Homo sapiens: one gene and its partners. The protein of the gene in region 1 interacts with the protein of each later gene in a pairwise test. Each region holds a gene or a part of one and is shown in the gene's direction. Other genes may lie near its edges.

The links.
Region 2: the proteins of PSMB1 (region 1) and TOLLIP interact in binary tests that used the Homo sapiens proteins (3 or more experiments, as listed by UniProt).
Region 3: the proteins of PSMB1 (region 1) and BEND7 interact in binary tests that used the Homo sapiens proteins (3 or more experiments, as listed by UniProt).
Region 4: the proteins of PSMB1 (region 1) and IMPACT interact in binary tests that used the Homo sapiens proteins (3 or more experiments, as listed by UniProt).
Region 5: the proteins of PSMB1 (region 1) and GPBP1 interact in binary tests that used the Homo sapiens proteins (3 or more experiments, as listed by UniProt).
Region 6: the proteins of PSMB1 (region 1) and GRIPAP1 interact in binary tests that used the Homo sapiens proteins (3 or more experiments, as listed by UniProt).
Region 7: the proteins of PSMB1 (region 1) and PIP4K2B interact in binary tests that used the Homo sapiens proteins (3 or more experiments, as listed by UniProt).

What each region holds. Positions count from the first base shown.
Region 1 is NC_000006.12:170,543,308-170,546,807, reverse strand, and holds part of PSMB1 (proteasome subunit beta type-1), read left to right. Parts: intron 1-623; coding exon 624-705; intron 706-3,077; coding exon 3,078-3,207; intron 3,208-3,500. UniProt on the Homo sapiens protein: Non-catalytic component of the 20S core proteasome complex involved in the proteolytic degradation of most intracellular proteins. This complex plays numerous essential roles within the cell by associating with different regulatory particles.
Region 2 is NC_000011.10:1,303,133-1,306,632, reverse strand, and holds part of TOLLIP (toll-interacting protein), read left to right. Parts: intron 1-3,500. UniProt on the Homo sapiens protein: Component of the signaling pathway of IL-1 and Toll-like receptors. Inhibits cell activation by microbial products. Recruits IRAK1 to the IL-1 receptor complex. Inhibits IRAK1 phosphorylation and kinase activity.
Region 3 is NC_000010.11:13,522,515-13,526,014, reverse strand, and holds part of BEND7 (BEN domain-containing protein 7), read left to right. Parts: intron 1-3,500.
Region 4 is NC_000018.10:24,440,170-24,443,669, forward strand, and holds part of IMPACT (protein IMPACT), read left to right. Parts: intron 1-326; coding exon 327-449; intron 450-2,879; coding exon 2,880-2,983; intron 2,984-3,500. UniProt on the Homo sapiens protein: Translational regulator that ensures constant high levels of translation upon a variety of stress conditions, such as amino acid starvation, UV-C irradiation, proteasome inhibitor treatment and glucose deprivation.
Region 5 is NC_000005.10:57,180,559-57,184,058, forward strand, and holds part of GPBP1 (vasculin), read left to right. Parts: intron 1-3,500. UniProt on the Homo sapiens protein: Functions as a GC-rich promoter-specific transactivating transcription factor.
Region 6 is NC_000023.11:48,975,744-48,978,264, reverse strand, and holds part of GRIPAP1 (GRIP1-associated protein 1), read left to right. Parts: intron 1-1,901; coding exon 1,902-2,024; intron 2,025-2,153; coding exon 2,154-2,247; intron 2,248-2,521. UniProt on the Homo sapiens protein: Regulates the endosomal recycling back to the neuronal plasma membrane, possibly by connecting early and late recycling endosomal domains and promoting segregation of recycling endosomes from early endosomal membranes.
Region 7 is NC_000017.11:38,772,057-38,775,556, reverse strand, and holds part of PIP4K2B (phosphatidylinositol 5-phosphate 4-kinase type-2 beta), read left to right. Parts: intron 1-3,500. UniProt on the Homo sapiens protein: Participates in the biosynthesis of phosphatidylinositol 4,5-bisphosphate. Preferentially utilizes GTP, rather than ATP, for PI(5)P phosphorylation and its activity reflects changes in direct proportion to the physiological GTP concentration.

The sequences.
Region 1 (3,500 bases):
CTGTGTGGCCCTTGGATTGTGTTGTTTAAATCTACCTTCACGAGGCTGGGTGCAGTGGTTCACACCTGTAATCCCAGCACTTTGGAGGCCAAGGCAGGTGGATTACCTGAGGTCAGGAGTTTGAGACCAGCCTGGCCAACATGGTGAAACCCCATCTGTACTAAAAATACAAAAATCAGCTGGGTGTGGTGGCGGGTGCCTGTAATCCCAGATACTTGGGAGGCTGAGGCAGGGGAATTGCTTGAACCCAGGAGGCGGAAGTTGCAGTGAGCCAAGATTGCGCCACTGCATTCCAGCCTGGGTGACAAGAGCGAAACTCCGTCTCAAAAATCAGTCAATTAACCTACCTACGTATCTTCCTCAGCCCAAGATAGTAAAAAAAATTCACCCATGATTTATTTAGTCCATTCATAGTCGCATTTTTAAAGTCTTTGATCCACCTGTAATTCATCTGGAATAAGGGGTAAGATGGAATACAGACCCCTCCTCCCCAGAAGGGTGACTGTTTGTCCCATTACCATTTAGGGAATAGTGGGAATCAGAATTTTAAATTTAAAATTGCCGAAGATATGTTTTGCTCTACTATCTAACCAGCTCAGTTTTCTGAAATGTGCTTTTTACAGAACAGACAAAACAGTCATTGGATGCAGCGGTTTTCATGGAGACTGTCTTACGCTGACAAAGATTATTGAAGCAAGACTAAAGGTAGATGCTTTTGTACATTTCTACACTATTTTAAATTAATAGTAATTCATTAAATTCTTTTAAGCCTACAGCATGACTGTTGGTCAGATAGCTAGAGAGTCACTAGGTTAGTAGATGAATTACAAATGTATGCTAGAAATGAAATGATATCATTAATGCAGGGTCATTAAAGTAGCATAATGTGAAACAGCAGCACATTCCATTTGTTAAAGTCTTGTATCATATGAAGGGTTCTCTACCCTTTTAGAAGGAGCCTGGGAGGAGTTCTTCTTCTGAAGATACTCTTCCCTCAAAAACAAAGCAAATCAATTTCTGTGGCAGGAGAGAGCCCAGGAAAGATTTGACACAGGAGCTTGGTTTGCATCACCATCAGTTGACAAGCTTTTCCTCTTTACAGTGCTGTGCTCTTAGTTGGCAGGATGCATGAGTAGAAATACGAAAGAATGAATAAGCTGGGAGCTTGGATGGGAGGCACAACATGCACCATTAACGTCTGTCACCTGACCAGCTTCAGTTGATAGCCAGCTGCCAGAAGTCAGGGGTGATCACATTCTGTTTTGCCTATTCATGAATAACACTTGAGATTATTTACACTTATGAGTGGTTACTGGAGTATATAGTATATTTATTTAACTGACACATGCTTTTTGAATGTGTAGAAAGGATTTCACTCAGTATTTATCAATTGTTAATGCTTTTTTAGAAACTTACATTGAAAGCCATAGTGACTTACATTTATTGGCATATTTATATGATAATTCCTAATGCTTATTTTATAAATGGGAGTTAGAAGACAAAAGTAAACATGATATTGTTAATAAAACAAGGAATGGTGAATTCTACATAATACACACCCCTTCCTGAAGTTTTTCTCTCATACTTTATTAGGTGGTGAAGTAAATAAATGTTGGTGCTTGGTTTCGAAATGAAATGGAATGAAATTTTTTTTTTTTTTTTTGAGACAGAGTTTCACTCTTGTTGCCCAGGCTGGAGTGCAATGGCATGATCTTGGCTCACTGCAACCTCTGCCTCCTGGGTTCAAGTGATTATCCTGCCACAGCCTCCCGAGTAGCTGAGATTACAGGCACCTGTCACCACCCCTGTCTAATTTTTGTATTTTAGTAGAGACGGGGTTTCACCATGTTGGCCAGGCTGGTCTCGAACCCCTGACTTCAGGTGATCCACCCATCTCGGCCTCCCAAAGTGCTGGGATTACAGGCCAGCAGTGAGCCACTGTGCCCGGCCTATGAATAATTTTTTATAGTTTTTATCTTGGAAAGGCATTCCTCTATAAAAAACTTACCTGTTACTTGTAGTTCATTTCTAATCATTTTTCAGTGTTTTGACTGTCATTATTTAATTTTACGGTGCTAGTTAGATATCTATCTGTCTATTTATTTAGAGACAGCGTCTCACTTTGTTGCACAGGCTGGAGTACAGTGGCGCCATTGTAGCTCACTGTAGCCTTCATCTCCTGGGCTCAAACATTCTCCCGCCTCAGTTGGGATTACAGGTGTGAGCCACTATGCCTGGCCATTAAGTTTCTCATTAGAGATGTTTGCTATGTGGTTAACAAAAATTGGTGATCTTGAATTCATTTTATGTTTATAATTTTTGTGAAGTTTCTCTACCAGTGGGTAATGTAGGGCTCGCAAAGGTATAGTAAAGCTAGGATTTGCAGTCACTGTATTGTCATGCTAAGACCCTGTTTTGGATGCTTGTGTTCTCTACTGTAGATGTTTTAAGGATCACGACCACTGCTGTGTATTAAAATCATGCAGAGTAAGGGTGCTGCCCTGTGTCTTCTGTTCTCACAGAGATCTGCTCCACAAAGAGAGGGACTTACATCTAGGTTTGATCAGGGATTGCCGTAATTTTTCTGTAAAGGACCAGATAGTAAATATTTACAGCTTTATGGGCCTCATTTGATCTGCTTCTGTAGTGAAAAAGCAGCCACGGACAATATTCATAGCAATAGGGAGTAGGCTGGATTTGGCCCCTGAGCCAAACTACAGGGGTAGTTTGTTGACCCCTGGTCTATATGCAGAGTGAGGGAGAGAGATGGATTTAAACCCATCTTCCTTAGGCCACTTCATGTGCCCTTTCATACACATTAGCTCTTGGATTAGCAGTACCTGAGATAAGGGTGGTATGGAAAATAGAGTCTAAACCAGAGAGCTGAGGGCAAACTTGGCATTCCTTCCCTTAAAATTTTATGTTAGTAATACTGTGTTGGTTGATCATGAAGGAAATAGGCATGCTTTCCCCTTCCACTGTGGTATGCATTTATTTATTCACTTTATACTGTTGATTGTTCTAGTCTATAATGGCCTCTGCCTCTACATGCCTGTGACTTTTATCAATAATTGCAGATGTATAAGCATTCCAATAATAAGGCCATGACTACGGGGGCAATTGCTGCAATGCTGTCTACAATCCTGTATTCAAGGCGCTTCTTTCCATACTATGTTTACAACATCATCGGTGGACTTGATGAAGAAGGTAGAATTCCTTCTTTCTGGAAAATGGTGGGGGGGAGGAGTTATTATTCCCTAGATGTGTGTATCCATCTAGAGTTGAAAAGAACCATAAATACCATCTGACACAATTCTCATTTCATTTCTGATAATGAAAGTGATGAAGAAACTGAAGCTAATGTATGACCTCCAAAGGCACATTGAAGCTCTAATAGTGAATGTTGAGCAGCCAGTTATTTTGCTATTTTCTCAGGAACTTGCATGAGTTAGTAGTAAATAATTAGGCATTTTTATCTTATAGAAAGAAATCGGACCTAG
Region 2 (3,500 bases), on another chromosome or scaffold:
ACCCATAGTGGGCCTTTACCCAGTTACTAGCACCTAGAGGAGCCCTGCTTTTGCAGGATGTCTTGACACAGTATTTATCATGTCCTCTTTCTGTTACACCTGTGGTGCCAGAGAGGCAGGAGGTTAAGCAGGGCGCTCGCTCAGCTTTCCAGCAGAAAGAGATGCTCCCCAGGGTCCGGGGGCAGGACTCTGGCTCGGGAGACCCTGACTGTGGTCTAGCCGTTGCCTCCCCCTAGTGATAAGGGGAGACGGCAAGATCCCATGGGCCGTGAAGGAGCAGAGGGGCCGCTAATGGGGTCCTGGGAGGGTTCTTTTGTCCTTGGGTAGAGGGAGCTTCAGGGGCCCGGGTGGGTAGGTGTGGAGAGGACGTGTGAAGCTAGCCAGCCCGACATCGTTCTGAGAGAATCATACCGTGTTTAGATCTTCAGGATAATGGTTCCCTGAATAGCCACTAAGGGATGCTTCAGCCCTGTGCAGTGCTTCCCTCACGTTTCAAAAAGGCCAGTATTTTGGAAAGATAACCTTTTTTCAATATAGTCTGCATATTATCAGAAAGCATGGGTGAGTACCTGCAAGGAGTACCATGTGGACCCCTGCGAGGGGTACCGTGGGGGCCCCTGCGAGGGGTACTGTGTGGACCCCTGTGAGGAGTATCATGGGGGCCCCTGCGAGGGGTACCGTGCGGGCCCCCGCGAGGAGTATCGAGGAGTACCGTGTGGACCCCTGCCTTCTGCAGTGAGATCTCGGGACGTTTGCGGGAGACTCCGCTGCAGCCACCGCGGTGCCGTCAGAGAGGCCTCCTTGGTAGAGGTGGGTGCGCTGTGCCGTGTCCAGGCTGCTCTGACTCCTTGTCCTGCTTCTGGAGGTGCTGGTTGGCCATGGAGTCCAGCTGGAGGCGGCCTGGCCCCTCCCTTCCTCCCTGAGAGGCCTGTTCCTGTCCAGGTCCCCTCACTCTTCACATCGTTGATAATTCCTGCCGAATCGGTGACTTCATTAGGGATGGCAGAGGGTAGTTTCTGAACTTTATCACTTCTTCGGTGTTTATTAACTGGGATTGTTTGTAAAGATTAGCTTTCCCCATCAACCGGTGTCGGCTGGCTGTCCTGAAACACAATTCGTGAAAGAAAGGCAAGTGAGATGCTTTTCCCTCATCTTCCCGTACCTCAAGGAGAGAGTTGCTTTTCTTTGTAGATGTGTGTGGGCTTTCTCTCCCCTGAGTGTTGTGAAGAGCCCGTGGATTTTCCTGCATCCTGTGTGTCTGAGCCAGTGGCACTTACCCGTCTCCGCTGGCTCTGGTGGGCTGCTCCTGGGAGGGCGTCCGTTCCTGCTGACTGCACCTGAGCCAGCGGGGAACGCACTCACCGCCTCCTCACGAGTCCTTTCTCTCTGGGTTCCTGTGAACCTTTGCGCTGGATTTTTTAGGCCGGGTTGTGAGTCTGTACAGGTGTGGAATTGCTGTGCTTGCCTGGAAATCACATCTTTTCACTGTGTGGGGACCCACGGGCCTCTTGGAAGATAAAGGCCTCTTGCCTTTGATTATTTTGTCTGATACTGGCATGGCCACCCCAGCTGTCTTTTAGAGAGTATTCACCTAGTACTTTTTCCTTCTATGATTTTACATTTTTCTGAAAACTTTTGTTTAAGACACGTGCACCATCGATAGCACGTAGCTGGATTTTTAAAAAGTCAAATCTAAGAAGACTAAGTCTTTTGATGGGAATGCGCTAGTTTCATCTTTCTAGTTAAGAGATGCCTAGATGGATACACAGATTTACAGATTTTTTACATGTTTTCTTTGGTGCTTTTATTTGTCCTACATTTTCTTATTTTTTTTCTCTCATTGCCTTTTGAATTTATTAAATGGAGTTTTAAAAAATTCAGTTGTTTTATCTCAAGTACATACACACTGTGCTGGGAAAGTACAGGGGCTCCCCTGGAAATGGTAACATGCACTTATCAGCTTCTGCCATGAGGGAGTCTCTGAGTGAACTCTGGCTCCGGAGGCTGCCCGGCTAAAGAATAAATAAAGAAGAAGTTAATCATTGTCTGTGCCACCTCCGGATCCACGCGGAGACCTCGGCCGCCCCGTCCTGGCGCGGGTGCTGCTGTGCCTTGTGTGGGTGCTACCTCCCCTTGGGGCTCCCGCAGGAATGTGTTACTTCTCTCGAGTCAGCGCTTGTTTAGATTTCCTTCTGTGTTTCTCTTTTCTTATCCCTTCTGGTGTCTCGGGCCTTCCATTTGGGGTCACTTTCCTTTAGCTTCAGGTTCATCTAGAATTTTCCTTGCTGGCAAACTTGATTTTTGCTTGTACATGCCTTTTCTCTGTGTCCTGACAGCTATTTTTGTGTGTGTGGAACTCCAGGTGGGCGGTACTCCAGGTGGACAGTACTCCCGGTGGACGGTCACTTGTCCTCAGTGCCTCGAAGGTGGGACCCCGCCCTCTCCTGGCTCCTGGAGTGGCTGCTGAGCAGCCCGGGAGTGGATGTCCCTTCCTCCGGCTTTCCTTCGTTTTTGGCCCTCTGTTTGCTGCCTTCTGAATACGCTGCTTCTGGCCTGCCTCCCAGTTCACTTGAGGTCTTTTTTTTTTTTTTTTTTTTTACATGGAGGCTCGCTCTGTAGCCCAGGCTGGAGTGCAGTGGCACAATCTCAACTCACTGCAACCTCTTCCTCCCAGGTTCAAGCGATTTTCCTGCCTCAGACTCCCGAGTAGCTGGGATTACAGGCGTCCACCACCACGCCCAGCTAATTTTTGTATTTTTAGTAGAGATGGGGTTTCACCATGTTGGCCAGGCTGTTCTCGAACTCCTGGTCTCAAGTGATCCGCCCACCTCAGCCTCCCAAAGTTTTGGGATTACAGGCGTGAGCCACTGCACCCGGCCCTAACCTCTGTTCATCTGGGCCTCTAACACTGTCCCTTGACCTGCCCGACAGGCCCCTGGTTAGGCCTGCTGTGCAAGTGTTTCCTGTCCCTGAGTCACTGTCTCCAGATCCTGCGGGCCCTGCCCTGGCACCGTGCTGGTGAGGCCTGCCTTGCTGCCCTGTGGGAAGTGCAGCGTGCCCCTGCCACCCGGCCTTGCCCTGTTTCTTTGCACAGCGCCTCCTGCCGTTAGCATACAGCATAACTCATGATGCTTCCCGTTTGTCTTCTTCCACTCACGTGTAAGCATCCCAGGAGCAGGGGTGCCCCAGCACCTCACCATGGAAGCCTCAGGCACACAGTGACACGCAGAGGCTGCCGCAGCGCGCGCCCTGTGCCCGGCGCCCAGGGCCTGCCACGTCACATGCCGTCCCTCTCTGGATCTCTGTCCGCCCTTGGCCTGCTGCTTGACTGGCTTTTGTTTCATCTGAATGAGAAGGGGTTTTCCGCCTCTGCCTTGCTTGACCGTCCCAGCACTTAGGATGCAAGGCTGCCTGCAGTGGAGTTCCTGGCAGAGACCCCATTTAAAGTCGCTTGTTCTGTAGTCAGCTTTTATAATCTATGCTTATTCTCATTCTGTCCT
Region 3 (3,500 bases), on another chromosome or scaffold:
AAGACCTTTTATTTTACAGATTGCCAATATATCCCTTATTAACATTGCTAAAAGTTGTAATTTCAGACATAAATGTTTATTAGTGTCTACACACAGTGCTAATTATCACTCACTCACAGAGCCAGATGCTGACTGTGCAGTTTTGTGGCTCTGCGCTCACCCCATTTACATTGCATATTCGTTGGCATGCTTCACTGGCAATAGTTTGTGTAATTGGGGTATTACATCTTTGACATCTGGATAACAGAAATTCAATTTCCAGGAAGCTGCTATTTGTTTGGTTTTGCTTCTGCCTTGGGTGGGATAGAGGATTAATGTGCTGTCTTATAATGTCCCTTCACCTCTGTGGCCCAGTTGCTAATCCTGCCATGACAAAATTAAATTAAATCTACAGTCAAAAAGCATAAGGAAAATAAAAGTGTGACTGTCTGCCTAACCAGCTCTTGATAGTGCTAGTTATCATCAAGCAGCTCCTCATTTTCCTGACTTTGTGCTCCTTTCACACCAGCATTTTGGGACAGGGGGAACAGCATGCTTTCCTCTTACCATCCTTGTTCCCAGCTCACGTCAGGGATGAGCAGAGCTAAAACAGCATTTCTGAGACTTTCCAGCAAGTGTAGCTGCATGATGGGTGGGTAGGTAGCCACAAACATTGCCACCTTTTCCATGTGCAGTGTTGGTGCAAATACTGTACAGGAAAGACTTTGGATGTGCAGTTTTTTATTTGCACACAATCAGCCAAAAATGAAACCACGTAAGATTTTGCCTCTAAGAGTGAAGTACCCATAAGGTCAGGGTGGAGAGTAGATGGTGGCGTTGGGCCTCAACCTTGTCCATCTTGGACCTCTGCAATCCCAGGTAGCAGGGTGAGGGCACAGCACTGCACAGCAAGGAAGCAGAACATGAGAGAGGTCAGAGCGAGAACGATTACAAGCAAAGCCACAATTACCCCATCAAGGGGGACTTCAGGTAGCAGGACTGCTGCTCAGACCCGGTGTGGGTCAGCCTTCAAACGAAGCTCTCGCCAGGATCTCTCTGGTTTTGCTTTGAGGGATAGAAAGGGTGGGTCGGGATGCATTGGGAAGAAGTCAAATATTAATATATACTTTAAGAGGAAAAATAGGAGGGAAATGTCAGCATTTCTTACATGAGCGATCATTGATAGCACATAGATCTTTCTGCTGAGGGAAAGAATATCACTGGGGCCAGCACTGCTCCCAGTACCTGTTTACTGTTAAGAGAGCTAGGAGCCAAAAGGTTAATAATCAAGTGAAATGCTGTGGCCCAGAAAGAGAATATTCTTGGATTCTAGTCTTTCCAGTCCCCTAAACTTGGTCAGTTGGAATTCTTTTTTTTTTTTTTTTTTTTTTGAGACGGAGGTTCACTCTTTTTATCCAGGCTGGAGTGCAATGGCATGATCTCGGCTCACTGCAACCCCTGCCTCCCAGGTTCAGGCGATTCTCCTGCCTCAGCCTCCTGAGTAGCTGGGATTACAAGCACCTGCCACCACGCTTGGCTAATTTTTTGTATTTTTAGTAGAGACAGAGTTTTACCATGTTGGCCAGGCTGGTCTCAAACTCCTGACCTCAGGTGATCCACCTGCCTCAGCCTCCCAAAGTGCTGGGATTACAGGCGTGAGCCACCGTGCCTGGTTGGTCAGCTGGAATTTTGTATTATCAAAGTACCACTCTATATAGCCATTCGAAATAACGAATTTACCCTTTAGTAGAAAATTTACGTTCACCATACAAAGGGAACATCATGTCCTTGATTTAGTTCTCCAGCAAGGCAGGCTTTCCCGCACTTTCTGTTGTGTACTACTAGAAAAGTGGTAAGGTCACTACGAAGGAAGTGAATTGTAAGGATAAGAGAGGGGAAGCTGAAGAGCAACAGGATGCTAGTGCCCAGGATTCAGTAAGCTGGAAACTCCCAGAGATGATAGACGTTGTTGCTTTTCTTCTTCCTAGTCCAAGTTGAGGAAGATGCAAGAATTCCAATGAAGGACCAGGCTTGAGATAGATACGCTTTCAAAGTGGTTGCTCCAGAAGGCCTTCAACATCAAGAGACAAAAGATTGAACAGCCTGGGAGTGTGCTGTGGGTTATTTTCAATCTTTTGCTCATTCTTGGGTCATCATGTAGTTGGTTCCCAAATAACATTTTTATTTTGTGATCTCTAGGTCAGTTAAGAAAAAATAACAGAAATTGTCACAGCAACATGATTTCTGGAGCAATTGAGAATAGTTACTGATGGCATCTGAGAGTAGGAATTTTTTGTTGACAGTGTTATAGTTTATAGTTTTATAGTTACACTTTTCAAAACATAAAGATTTCAATTATGTTTATTTTATAAATTGCTAAAGCCTGTCCATAAAGATGTAGAATTATATGGGAAGCTTATGACATCCAAGGGGGTTTGGTACCAAAATACTAGAACTCTTTCCCCTATAACAAAGTACTGACACACTGTCCCAGGGATGGTCTATAGGATTTTCTACATTCAAACATATGTGTTCCCTTTAATAGTATCTGCATCTATAAGATCAAAGTTTATGTTCTAGGTGAAAAAGAGTCTTCTAGAATGTGGCAGAGGTTCCCACATCAAGTCTACCTCTCTGGAACATGTTTAGGCTGTTAACGAACGTAGTGTATCTCACATGGTAGGGTAGCTCAGTAGTGTAAATGGCTTGGCCTCGTGCTTTAGGAATTACTCACATATTTTTAATTGGATAATAGGGTCAGAAGACGTTACTTTACCCTGTGGACATTGACTTTCTCAAGCTGGCTGTGATGGGACTACAGTGAAGATTTAAGCACTGTTTGAAAGGAAACAGTTCTCTTAAATCAGTTCAGCCAGTGTCTTTATAGAAGATACTCTGAACTCAGCACTTTTCTGGAATGGGAGTGGGGTCAGAGATAGTCACAGAAATGGATAGGACAGGGACCTTGTTCTCAGGGATTCAGATCCAGCTGGGGAGGAGACAGGACAAATTCAGGAAACGGAGCAGTATTCAGCAATCGTAAGAGCTACAGTTGTTTGAGCACTTAACTGTGTGCAAGGCAGCACACTGAGCACTTTACATGAAAGACCTGATTTGCTCTTTGCAGCATGTCTGTATGAGTTACCGTCATCCCCATTTTGTAGATGAGCCTAGAGATGTCGAGGTGACCTGCCCAAGGTCTCTCAAGTAGGAAGTGCCACAGGTAGGGTTCCAGTGCAGGTCTGTCTGAGCTTTGAACACTCCACTTAACCGCCTGTCTGTGAACGGTAATTAAATGACAAATGTGAATGATCAGGGCAACAGCAAATGCAGAGTTGGAAGGGGTAGAGGGGAGGGCTCTGCAAAGCAGAGATGTTGAACTACAGGAAAGATTCGCTCCTGTATTTCTCCTCCCTGGAGAAGATTCCAGGTGGGAAGGGTGAGGGAGCCGCCAATAAGCATCATTATAGCTCGACCATGAGTGTTGCACTTATGGTTTAGAAAGTGCTTTCACATCTGTC
Region 4 (3,500 bases), on another chromosome or scaffold:
GTTAAAATGCCATCCTATCATATTTTTTTGTTGCTCAAATTGTTCTAGCTTTGACCTTTAAGAGCCCCTTCAGGTTAACTCCTGTGTTCTTTTTATAAGCCCCATCTCTTTTTGAGCATTTCCCAGTTTGTGGATCCACATGAGGTTCCAGGTTCATCTTGTAGTTTCCTTGCTCCAACTCAGGAATCAACCAGTTCTCCTACGGGCTGAGTGCTGGTTCCTTTCGTTGAAGAGTGGTATTTAGAACCCAAGACCCAGTGATTTTTTTTTAAAAAGCATCGTTTCTTACCTGCGTCATAAAGTAATTGTGTCTCATATTCACATAGGCCCAGATGTAAAGAAGAAAACTGAAGAGGAAGATGTTGAATGTGAAGATGATCTCATTTTAGCATGTCAGCCGGAAAGTTCGCTTAAAGCATTGGATTTTGATATCAGTGAAACTCGGACAGGTATAATGTTACTAACTAATTTCTTTTGAGGAGAGTGGGTTGGTAGTATTATGTATTGTTCTTTGAGATGATAGAGAAATTTACTAATTTTCTCCAGTTTTAGGAAGGAGTTATTAATTTGCAGATAAGATTAATTTTTTCCTGCCTGTTGGCAATTTTGGTGTTTGCCAAGTCTTATCAGAATGGCAAGGAAAAAATGGAAATTTACTCTTTTCCCCCTACTTTCTAGAGTTTTGATTTAGTGATGGAAGAAATTGAAACTAAGAAAGGCTATTAACGTTTTTAGTTAACATCATGTTTTTATATTTCTGTATTGAAATCCTTAGCTGTTTCCTGATGTTTCAGGATTAAATTTTAGTCTGTGCTCACAAATACAAATATATTAACTGAAAGTGCAGCCCTGGAAATTAAAGCTAGTAAAATGCCTTTAAGAGGTTTTTTTTGAGAGACAAGGTCTCGCTGTGTTGCCCAAGTTGACCTTGAACTCCTGGGCTCAAGTGATCCTTCTACCTCAGCCTCCGAGTAGCTGGGACTACAAGCATGCACCATTGTGCCCAGCTTGAGTTCAGTTTTTGTTTGTTTGTTTGTTTTTTTGAGATAGAGTCTTGCTCTGTTGCCCGGGCTGGAGTGCAGTGGCACGATCTCAGTTCAATGCAACCTTGCCTCCCAAGTTCAGTGATTCTCCTGCCTCAGCCTCCTACGTATCTGGGATTACTGGCACATGCCACCATGCCTGTCTAATTTTTGTATTTTTAGTAGAGATTGGGTTTCGCCATGTTGGCCAGGCTGACCTCAAATGACCTACCCACCTCATCCTCCCAGAGTGCTGGGATTATTATAGGCGTGAGCCACCACGCCCGGCCTAGTTTTCGTTTAAACAAATTTGTTTCGTAATCGAGTAGTATTCAACATAAAAATAGGTTGCTGTGATATTATGTTTCATTTTAATATTTTAAAATTTTGAATGTTATTGTTAGTTTCCCTAAGCCTCTTAGGAAAACATGGTAGACCAGGGGGAATATTCATTCTGTTTGAAGGTGAGGGGTTTCCTGTGTCATTACACAGTAGCTTTTAAAAGGTGCTCTGAGTTTTAAGGCTTTTGAATGGTGTCCAGGACTAGTAGAAGGGAACAAAGAGGAAATGAAAGAGTGGGGAGCATCCAGGGCTCTCATTTATGCTCTAGCCTAAGTAGCTCCCATTTTAATCATTTATTTGTGTGTGGATTTGACATATGATATCTTTTGAAAACAGGATCTACCATGAAAAGAAAAAGGATAAAAATCATACTCATAAATAAATACTATCAATTGGTCAGTAGTTCATATTGACCCTAATACTGTATTTGACTTATTACTATGTTAGTACAGCAGTCAAAATCAATTCAGGAAAAGAACAGTATCAGAGGGAAGGTGTAAAACATCTTACATAAACCTACTTTCTTGTCTTGAATAACTTTTCATCCTAAGTGAGGCAGGTAGTAGTAGCCAGGACGATTAAGTCTCTCAACAGAATTGAGGGTTAATTAGTGATTCTTTTTTTTTTTTTTTTTTTTGGAGATGGAGTCTTGCTCTGTTGCCCAGGCTGGAGTTCAATGGCACAAACTCGGCTCACTGCAACCTCCGCCTCCCAGGTTCAAGCAATTTTCCTGCCTCAGCCTCCCGAGTAGCTGGAATTACAGGCACACGCCACCATGCCCAGCTAATTTTTGTATTTTAGTAGAGACGGGGGTTTCACCATGTTGGCCAGGCTGGTCTCAAACTCCTGAACTCAGGTGATCCACTCCCTCGGCCTCCCAAAGGGTTGGGATTGCAGGCGTGAGCCACCACGCCCAGCCATGATCCTTAAACTTGTTTTAAGAGGTATAATAACTGGAAATCATGATGCTCTTTAAGGAATACCAATTGGATGTATTATTGATGTATTTAATTCCATCATATGAAGTAGAAACAGTTTCATTAGCAGAAGGCATTATATTATAGCTACACAATATAAAGAATATAAATTCATAGTTTTCCCAACTCAGAGGTCTAACAACAGTGAAACTGATAAATAAATTTTATATTAGCAGCTATAAATCTTTGGTTTCAGGACTCCTTTACACTCTTAAAAATTATATATTAGATATTGTACCAACTTACACTACTGACTGCAGCAGTTCAAGATTAGTCCCAACCCACTGCTTCCCCTGGGTAACCTTGGCAGGTGGAAATCATTTATAAATCAAGTATTTTAATCTTATGTACAATATAGTTAGAAACTTTTTACTTAAAATTATAATTTAAATTTAATTTTGGTAGATAGCGATTAATGGTTATTTTAGTTGATTTGCCATGTAATTTACATTTCTTTCCCAGCTGCCCCCCCATTTCATTTTTTTCAGTATTTGAATGTAAGGCTTTTTAAAAAATAAAGTTTCTTTTACATTTCTAGAAGTAGAAGTAGAAGAATTACCTCCGATTGATCATGGCATTCCTATTACAGACCGAAGAAGTACTTTTCAGGCACACTTGGCTCCAGTGGTTTGTCCCAAACAGGTAAAGTTCCTTTGTCTAGCTCACTTTGATGATTACTAAAATAATTCAGGTAAATGATTTTGCAATAATCCCCTTGTTTTTACTTTTATGTTTTATTTTCATATAAGATAAAAATTATTTGTTCATTTTTCTACTCCCAAATTACTGTGAATCACGGAAGATTTGTTTTGTTTCTGTTTGTCTCTGCTTTCTTTCTTTTTTTTTGTGATGGTGTCTCACCATGTTGCCCAGGCTGGTCTCAATCTGGACTCAATCAGCCCTCCTGCCTCCAGCCCTCCCAATCCAAGGTATTGGGATTACAGGCATAAGCCACCTAGCCAGGCCTGTCACTGCTTTCAAAATTGTATCTAAACTCTGATTAGGGGTTAACCCTCTAATGAATCTTTAAATAAGAAATACCCATTGTGTTATTAGAGAAAATTATGATGCTTAATACCTTGTCAAAAAGAATTATTTGTCCTGTCGAATGGGAGTTCTGTGAAACTAAGTCCATTCCTCTGTTATTATTCAACAAAGG
Region 5 (3,500 bases), on another chromosome or scaffold:
AAAAGGGTCATGGCTGAGGGTTTGGAAGGGAACTTGGTTTAGGATATGGAATATCTAGAAAAATGCCTGTGTGACTGTATGTTCACCTAACTTTTTTTGGCCTTAGTTTCTTCATTATACTGATGGAAATATATATGGAGGGTTTTTGTAAATTGTGAAGTGTAATACAGATGTAAAGATTTTTTTGGGGTTTTTTGTTTTGAGACAGAGTCTCGCTCTGTCACTCATGCTGGAGTGCAATGGCACAATCTCAGTTCATTGCAACCTCCGCCTCCCAGGTCCAAGCGATTTTCCTGCCTCAGCCTCTCAAGTAGCTGGGATTACAGGTGCCCACCACCACGCCCAGCTAATTTTTGAATTTTTAGTAGAGATGGGGTTTCCCCATGTTGGTCAGGCTGGTCTCCAACTCCTGATCTCAGGTGATCCACCCACCTCAACAAATTTAAATATGGCTTTAAAATATAGTTTGAAAACTGAATTAAGAATTAAAGGGGGCCAGGTGCAGTGGCTCATGCCTGTAATCCCAACAGTTTGGGAGGCCAAGGCAGGAGGAACACTTGAGATTAGGAGTTCGAGACTAGCCTGAGAAACATAACAAGACTGTCTCTCTACAAAACATAAAAAAAATTAGCTGAGCATGGTGACATGCGCCTGTAGTCCTAGCTACTTGGAAGGCTGAGGCAGGAGGACTGCTTGAGCCTAGGAAGTCGAGATGGCAGTGAGCGGTGATTGCACCACTGCACTCCAGCCTGGGTTGCAGAGTGACACCCTGCCTCAAAAATGAATAAGAATTAAAGAGATGAGGCCGGATGCCTCGGTATTTTTGGCGCTGCGATCGCGACACTGCACTCCAGCTTGGGGTGACAAGACTGTGTCAAAAAAAAAAAAAAGAACCTCTGACATACAAAATACTATTTAAAAAAGGGGTGAGGGGGCAGGGCATGGTGGCTTATGCCTATTATCCTAATACTTTGGGAGCCTGAGGCACGAGGCTCACTGGAGCCCAGGAGTTTGAAACCAGCCTAGGGAACATTTAAAAAAAAGGTGGGGGGGCGGTGCGGGGGCAGGGAATACATCTCTTTTCAAACTCCTGACCTCAGGTGTTCTACCCACCTCGGCCTCCCAAAGTGCTGGAATTACAGGTGTGAGCCACCATGCCAGGCCGAGACAGTGGTTTCTGAGAATTCTTTGAAATTGATAATTTTGTGGGCATTTCAGTGCATTTTTCTGGAAAGGTCCATTACCTTCAACAGAAATGTTGAAAAACAAAATGTTAGTGGTTACTGGTAAACTGTTTTGTGGTTGTGACTGTTTTTCAGTTTTTACCTGCTTGCTTTTCCCATTTTGTCAGCTGTCCCACCCATCACAATAGTTAACAGATTTGCTGTATAACCCTGCAGATAATTGCTAGTTTCTGCATCTTTTTATATACAAGATATGTCATTTAGTTTCTTGGTCTTTAGTTATTATTTTGTTCACAGCTTGGTGGGTGCAGTGCTTTTGGTCTTTCCATTTTCTTCCCTTTAATTATTTTATAAATTTTTTGAGACGGAGTCTCCCTCTTGCCCAGGCTGGAGTGCAGTGGCATGATCTTGGCTCACTGCAACCTCCACCTCCCAGGCTCAAGTGCTGCTTCTGCCTCAGCCTCCCTAGTAGCTGAGATTACAGGCACCTGCCATCAGGCCTGGCTAAGTTTTGTATTTTTAGTAGAGATGGGGTTTCACCATGTTGACCAGGCTGGTCTTGAACTCCTGACCTGAAGTGATCTGCCCACCTCAGCCTCCCAAAGTGCTGGGATTATAGCCATGAGCTTCTGTGCCTGGCCTTTTTTTGAGATGGAGTCTCACTCTGTCGCCCAGGCTGGGGTGCAGTGGTGCGATCTCGGTTCACTGCAACCTCCAACTCCCGGGTTCAAGTGATTCTCCTGCCTCAGCCTCCCGAGTAGCTGGGATTATAGGCGCCTGGCACCATACTTAGCTAATTTTTGTATTTTTAGTAGAGATGAGGTTTCACCATGTTGGCCAGGCTGGTCTTGAACTCCTGACCTCGTGATCCACCTGCCTCAGCCTCCCAAAGTGCTGGGATTACAGGCGTGAGCCACCGCACTCGGCTTCTTCTCTTTAATTCTTATTTATTTATTTTTGAGACAAAGTGTCACTCTGCCACCCAGGCTGGAGTGCAGTGGTGCAGTCACGGCTCACTGCCATCTCGACCTCCTAGGCTCAAGCAGTCCTCCTGCCTCAGCCTCCCAAGTAGCTGGGACTATAGGCGCATGTCACCATGCTCGGCTAATTTTTTTTATTTTGTAGAGAGAGAGTCTTGTTATGTTTCCCAGGCTAGTCTCGAACTCCTAATCTCAAGTGTTCCTCCTGCCTTGGCCTCCCAAACTGTTGGGATTACAGGCATGAGCCACTGCGTCTGGCCCCCTTTAATTCTTAATTCAGTTTTCAAATTATATTTTAAAGCCATATTTCAATTTTTTTCCTACACTTTTCATGCAAGAATAAGTTTTTAAAACTCTTAGTTGCCAGGCATGGTGGCTCATGCCTGTAATCCCAGCACTTTGGGAGGCTGAAGCGGGTGGATCACCTGAGGTCAGGAGTTCAAGACCAGCCTGACCAACATGGCGAAACCCCGTCTCTAATAAAAATACAAAAAATTAGCTGGGCGTGGTGGCACATGCCTGTAATCCCAGCTACTTGAGAGGCTGAGGCAGGAGAGTCGCTTGAACCCAGGAGGCAGAGGTTGCAGTGAGCCGAGATCATGCCATTGCACTCCAGCCTGGGTGACAAGAGTAAAAACTCTGTCTCTAAATAAATAAAAACATACATACATACAAACATATGTACAACTCTTAAGTTATCCTTTCTCCGAAACTGAGAATCTGGGCTTGGCTTGTGGCTCACGCCTGTAATCCAGCACAGGAAATTTAGAAATTAGCCCAGGTCAGTAGTGCGCCTTGTAGTCCCAGCTACTTGGGAGGCTGAGGTGGGAGGGTCACTTGAGTCCTGGAATTTAAGATGTCAGTGAGCTATGATTGTATCACTGCACTGTAGCCTATGCACCAAACAAGAACCGCCCCCCCATCTCAAAAAAAGAATTACGATGAAAGTGTAGTATAAGGGAAATACTAGTCTATGTTTTTGTATTAAAATTAACATTTCAAGAGTTGATAGCTAATATTTTTTAATACGGGGGGGATATGAATTTTTTTTTTTTTTTTTTGTTTTGGAGACAGGGTCTCACTCTATCACCCAGGCTGGAGGGCAGTGGTGCCATCACAGTTTGCTGCAGCCTCGACCTCCCAGACACAGGTGATCCTTTCTTTCACATCAGCCTTCTAAGTAGCTGGGACCACAGGTGAGTGCTGCCATGTCCAGCGAATTTTTTATTTTTTGTAGAGATGGGCTTCTGCCATGTCTCAGAATTTTGGTAGGCTGAGGCTGGTGGATCGCTTGAACCCAGGAATTTGAGACCAGCCTGGCCAACATGGTGAAACC
Region 6 (2,521 bases), on another chromosome or scaffold:
ACCCAAAAATCTGAGAACCCCTCCCCTTTTCTCCTCACCTAAACCCATCTCCTACTTTGGGCGCAGCACACATATTTTCTTGTCAACTTTTCCCCAAGCCCACCAACTTGGATTCAGATTGCGACATGCAGGACAGGCCAGTCATTCTCTCTCTCTGACTTTCTGTTTAATCATCTGTGGGCTAATTCCCCCTTCTCTGGTGCCATAAATTATGTGGCTCATAGTAGGTGCACCATCCAAGGAGAAGGTCCCTTTTTCCAACTTGTAATGATCACTAATTATTATTGCCGGCTGTCATGTCAGCCTCCTTACCAGCCACTTTCCTTTGGAAATAACTTTTTTATTGTTCCACAAATAGTATGTGCTCATTGTAGTACATTTTTTAAAAACCACAAATGAGCAAAGATTTTTTTAAAACCTTAAATGTCTGGCCGGGTGTGGTGGCTCATCCCTATAATCCTACACTTTGGGAGGCCAAGGTGGGCGGATCACTTGAGCTCAGGAGTTTAAGACCAGCCTGGGAAACGTGGTAAAACTCCGACTCTATTTAAAAAAAAAACAAAAACAAAAAAACCTTAAATGTCAAAAAAAAATAATATTTTCACCATCCAGACGTCACCATTATAAATTCTTAGTTCAGGGCTGGGCGCGGTGGCTCATGCCTGTAACCCTAGCACTTTGGGAGGCTGAGGCGGGCAGATCACTTGAGGTTAGGAGTTTGAGAACTGGCCTGGCCAACATAGCAAAACCTCATCTCTACTAAAATACAAAAATTAGCCGGGCGTGGTGGTGCGTGCCTGTAGTCCCAGCTACTCGAAAGGTTGAGGCAAGAGAATCGCTTGAACCTGGGAGGTGGAGGTTGCAATGAGCCGAGATCACACCACTGCACTCCAGCCTGGGCAACAGTGAAACTCCATCTCAAAAAATAAATAAATAAAATAAATTCTTAGTTCATACCCTTCCAGAATTCTCTCTCTTTTTAAAACCTAGATGAGATTAACCTGTTTTTTATTCAACTGTTGTCTCTACCTTCCCAATTTGATCAATTTTCATGTCATTGGCTGGGTGCGGTGGCTCCTGCCTATAATCCCAGTACTTTGGGAGGCCGAGGCGGGCAGATCACTTGAGGTCAGGAGTTCAAGACCAGCCTGGCCAACATGGTGAAACCCCATCTCTACTAAAAATACAAAAATTAGCTGGGCGTAGTGGCGCGTGCCTGTAATTCCATCTACTCGGGAGGCTGAGGCAGGAGAATCGCTTGATCCTGGGAGTTGGAGGTTGCAGTGAGCCAAGATCTTGCCATTGCACTCCAGCCTGGGCAACAAGAGTGAAATTCTGTCTCAAAAAAAAAAAAAAAATTCATGTCGTCTGATACTTTGACCTTAACCAGATTTCTCTAGTTGGCCCCAGAATGTCCTTTCTTGCTGGTTTTATGAAAACTAGCATTCAGATTCAGAGCACATGTTACATCTGGTTGTTTTATGGCCCTTAAATCTCTTTAGTGCGGTCCCTTTTTTCCTGAGACCAATTTGTTGAAGAGGCCAGCCCAGTCACCCCACAGGAAGTATGCTACCTTTTGGGTTTTTCTGCTGGCTTCCTGGTGGTATGATTTAACATGTCCCTCTCTTCCAGTTTTCCTGTCAGCTGAAAGTTAGATCTCATTTGCTTTGGGATCTTCCTTCAATCCTCTCCACAAGGCTCTGATGTGGTTACTCTCTACCCCCATTTAGGCAGAGGAGAAAACAGAGTCTGAGGGTACCAAGATGGGCCAACAGTCCCAGCTTCAGGGCCCATGTTCTCTCACCCACCTCTGGCCTGGTTCTCCTCCCCAGTCCCTGACACCTGTCTGGGGTCGGTGGTGCTGAGCCCGGGGCTGGCCTCTCCCCTTCTCTTTCCTGCAGTCCTTATCCAGCAGCCCTCAAGCCCAGCCCCCTCGGCCAGCAGAGCTGTCAGATGAGGAAGTGGCTGAGCTCTTTCAGCGGCTGGCAGAGACACAGCAGGAGAAATGGATGCTGGAGGAGAAGGTGCTGCCTGCCTGCCTGCCTGCCCATCCCCACTTGAAGTGCCCTTGTGGGTGTGGGGTCTGCCCGGGCCCGCCTCATGTGTGAACATGTACAGTAGAGGGGTCTCAGGTGGGCTGGGCCATCTTGCAGGTGAAGCACCTGGAAGTGAGCAGTGCTTCCATGGCAGAGGACCTCTGCCGGAAGAGCGCCATCATTGAGACCTACGTCATGGACAGCCGGATCGGTCAGTGTCCCCTCCCCGGCCCTCAGCCCTGGTCCAGCCTTCACCTGGCCCTCCCTCTCCATTCTGTGCTGCGGCTTCTCTCCTCTCCTCTCGGAACTCAGCGAAGCTACTGACAAGACCATGGCCTGTGGAGGGGAGAACAGGAAAGCACTGTCTCTTGATCTCGCCTCCTCCCTCTTCTCTCTTTCTCTGTCATCTCTCCACTCTCCATTCTCCATTGTGTCTCTCTGTCCACTTTCTCCTTTCCTCTCCCTGTGCCTCATCTTCCTCTCCT
Region 7 (3,500 bases), on another chromosome or scaffold:
AGCTGAATAAGGCTGAGCATGGTGGCTAACACCTGTAATCCCAGCAGCTCAGGAGGCTGAGGCAGAAGGACTGCTTGAGGCCAGAAGTTGGAGACCTGGGCAATTTACTGAGATCCTGTCTCTACAAAAAATTAAAAACTAGCTGGGTGTGGTGACATGTGCCTGTAGTCCTAGCTATTCAGGAGGCTGGGTGGGAGGATCCCTTGTGCCTAGGAGTTCACGGTTGTGGTGAGCTATGATCATGCCACTGTGCATCAGCCTGAACTAGAGGGTAAGACCCCATCTCTTTAAAAAACAAAACAAAAGCTAGGCGCGGTGGCTCACGCTTGTAATCCCAGCACTTTGGGAGGCCAAGGCAGGCGGATCACGAGGTCAGGAGATCGAGACCATCCTGGCTAACACGGTGAAACCCCGTCTCTACTAAAAATGCAAAAACAAAATTAGCCAGGTGTGGTGGTGGGCGCCTGTAGTCCCAGCTACTCGGGAGGCTGAGGCAGGAGAATGGCATGAACCCGGGAGACGGAGCTTGCAGGGAGCCGAGATCGTGCCACTGCACTCCAGCCTGGGCGACAGAACGAGACCTCATCTCAAAAACACACACACACACACACACACAAAAACTGATTAATATTCCATTGTATGGATGTATTACATTTTGTTTATTCATCAGTTAATGGACACTTGTTATATCAGTTGGGGTTCTCCAGAGAAACAAAACCTATAGGATGTTTTGTAAATCTCTTTATACCAAGATATTTATTTTTTATTTTATTTATTTATTTTTTTTGAGACAGAGTCTTGCTCTGTCACCCAGGCTGGAGTACAGTGGCGCGATCTTGGCTCACTGCAAGCTCCGCCTCCCGGGTTCACGCCATTCTCCTGCCTCAGCCTCCCGAGTAGCTGGGACTACAGGCGCCCACCACCATGCCCAGCTAGTTTTTTTTGTATTTTTAGTAGAGATGGGGTTTCACCATGTTAGCCAGGATGGTCTTGATCTCCTGACCTCATGATCTGCCTGCCTCGGCCTCCCAAAGTGCTGGGATTACAGGTGTGAGCCACCACGCCCGGCCCTAAGAGATTTATTTTAAGGAATTGTTTCATGGGATTATGGATACCAACGAGATCTGCAGTCAGCAAGCCGGAGGCCCAGGAGAGCTGGTGGTGTGGTTTTATTCTACAGGCCATCAGGCCACCAGGCAGAAGGAGTTCCCTCTTCCTCACCGGAGGGTCACCCTTTTTCTTCTCTTCAGGCCTTCTGCTGATTGGATGATGCCCATCCACACTGGGGAGGGCCATCTGCTTTACTCAGTCCACCAGTTCAATGCTCATTTCACCCAGAAACCCTCACAGACACACCCAGAATAATGCTTGACCAAGTGTCTGGGCACTCAGGCCCAGTCCAGCTGGCATATACAATTAGCCATCACACTTAGGTTGCTTCCACCTTGTAGCTGTTGGGAATAATGCTACTGTGAACATGGGTGTCATAAACTTCGTTTTGCTAGGAAGCGTTTCCTTAGTCACCCCCAACTATGTTCTTTCCTTATTCTGCCTTTCATCATCTGACATTATTTGTCCTGAGTCTTTGTCCTTCTCCCTTTTCTACCCTCTCCCCCTACTGTGGTTCTGAGAAGAATTTAATGCAGTTTACTCAGTGCATTTGTTTTCAATGCATGTTGCTTTATAAATGTTCTCAGGTGGGTGGAGGGCATGGTGCATGGACCTTCTTTTTCCTGGGACCCTAGCCCCTTCTCCCTGGGCCTTGAGAAGGCTTTGTCTGGAAGTGCTCAGAGTGGCATCCCTCCCTCCCTTCCTCTTCCAAGGAGATCCTGCTGGGCTCCCATCTTTAGGGCTCCTTGTCCTTAGTTGTGTTCTGGGCTCGTGCATAGAGCTGCTCTGCTTCCATGATGATTCTCCTCCTAGTTCTCTGTTAGGACCTAACATGGTGGTCAGTCTAACAGTCTCCTAGTGACCACTGTATGATGGTGACTGCACTCTTGCCTCATTATTAGCTAAACTGGAATGCTAGCTGGCCATTTCCATCCTGTATCATTCCATACTTTGTCTTGAAATCCTAGATAAAAGACTTGAACCACCACCCTGCTCACAGCACCCATTATACAGATGAGAAAACTAAGGCTTGGCAAGGGGAGTCACATGATGCTAGGGGAGGACTTTCCCCCAGCACCACACAGCCTCTTTTGACCTTCAGGGAATGGGTTGAGAATATTGGTTGGTTCTGGCTGCCATTCTTGTATGGTTTTGTGTTCCCTTTTCCTTTTTTTTCTATTTTTACCTGGGCTGAAAAGTCGATGACATAGTTTTTTCAGACTTTGTCTCTGAGGCCAGTTAGAAGTATATTTTACCTTGCAACCCAATGGATACACACAACTGAAACACTGTCTACCCTTATTTTCTGTCATGTATTCTGATATTTTCTATTCTATTTTATTATACAGTAGTCCCCCCTTATCAGCAGGGGACATGTTCCAAGATCCCCAGTGGACGCCTGAAGCCACAGATAGTACTGAACCCTGTATATACTATGCGTGAATTTTTTTTCCTTCTTCACAATTTCACGGATAGAAGATTTGTTCTTACAGGAGATCTTAGCAACCTCAGCATGCAATTTATTTTCTTTGTAAGTCAAGAGCTTTCACCTTTTCACTTAAAGCTGGCCAGGTGCAGTGGCTCACACCTGTAATCCCAGCACTTTTGGGAGGCTGAGGCAGGTGGATCACTTGAGGTCAGGAGCTCGAGACCAGCCTGGCCAACATGATGAAACTGTCTCTACTAAAAATACAAAAATTAGCTGAGTGTGGTGGTGCATGCCTGAAGTCCCAGCTACTTGGGAGGCTGAGACAGGAGAATCACTTGAACCTGGGAGGTGGAGGTTGCAGTGAGCCGAGATTGCACCAGTGCACTCTAGCCTGGTGACAGAGCAAGACTCTGTCTCAAAAAAAGAAAGCACTTTATGGCTTCTCTTTGGCATATCTGAATTGCCAACATCACTACTCTTGCTCTGTGGAGTCATAATGAAGTCAAATATGGGTTACTTGAATACAAGCACTGTGATACAACTATAGTGAACTGATAACCAAGACAGCTACGGACAGCTACTGAAAGACTAATGGGACGTTAGTGCATACAGTGTGGATATACTGCACAAAGGGATAATCTGCATCCTGGGCAGCACTGAATGGGACATAGCAAGATTTTATCATGCTACTCGGAATGGTACACTATTTAAAAACTTATGAATTATTTCTGGAATTTTCCATTTAATATTTTTGGACTGTAGTTGACCACAGGTAACTGAAACCATTGTGGATAAGGGTGGACTACTGCATTTAATTTAAAGAAATCCTAGTTCCAGCCCACTACATTGGGTTTAGGACTCATAATGGGTTGAAATTTTGATCTGAAATATATTGTTGTGTCATATCCATCGCTCCATCCTCTTCCATAGTATATCATTTCATTATTTCTTTCCTCAAACT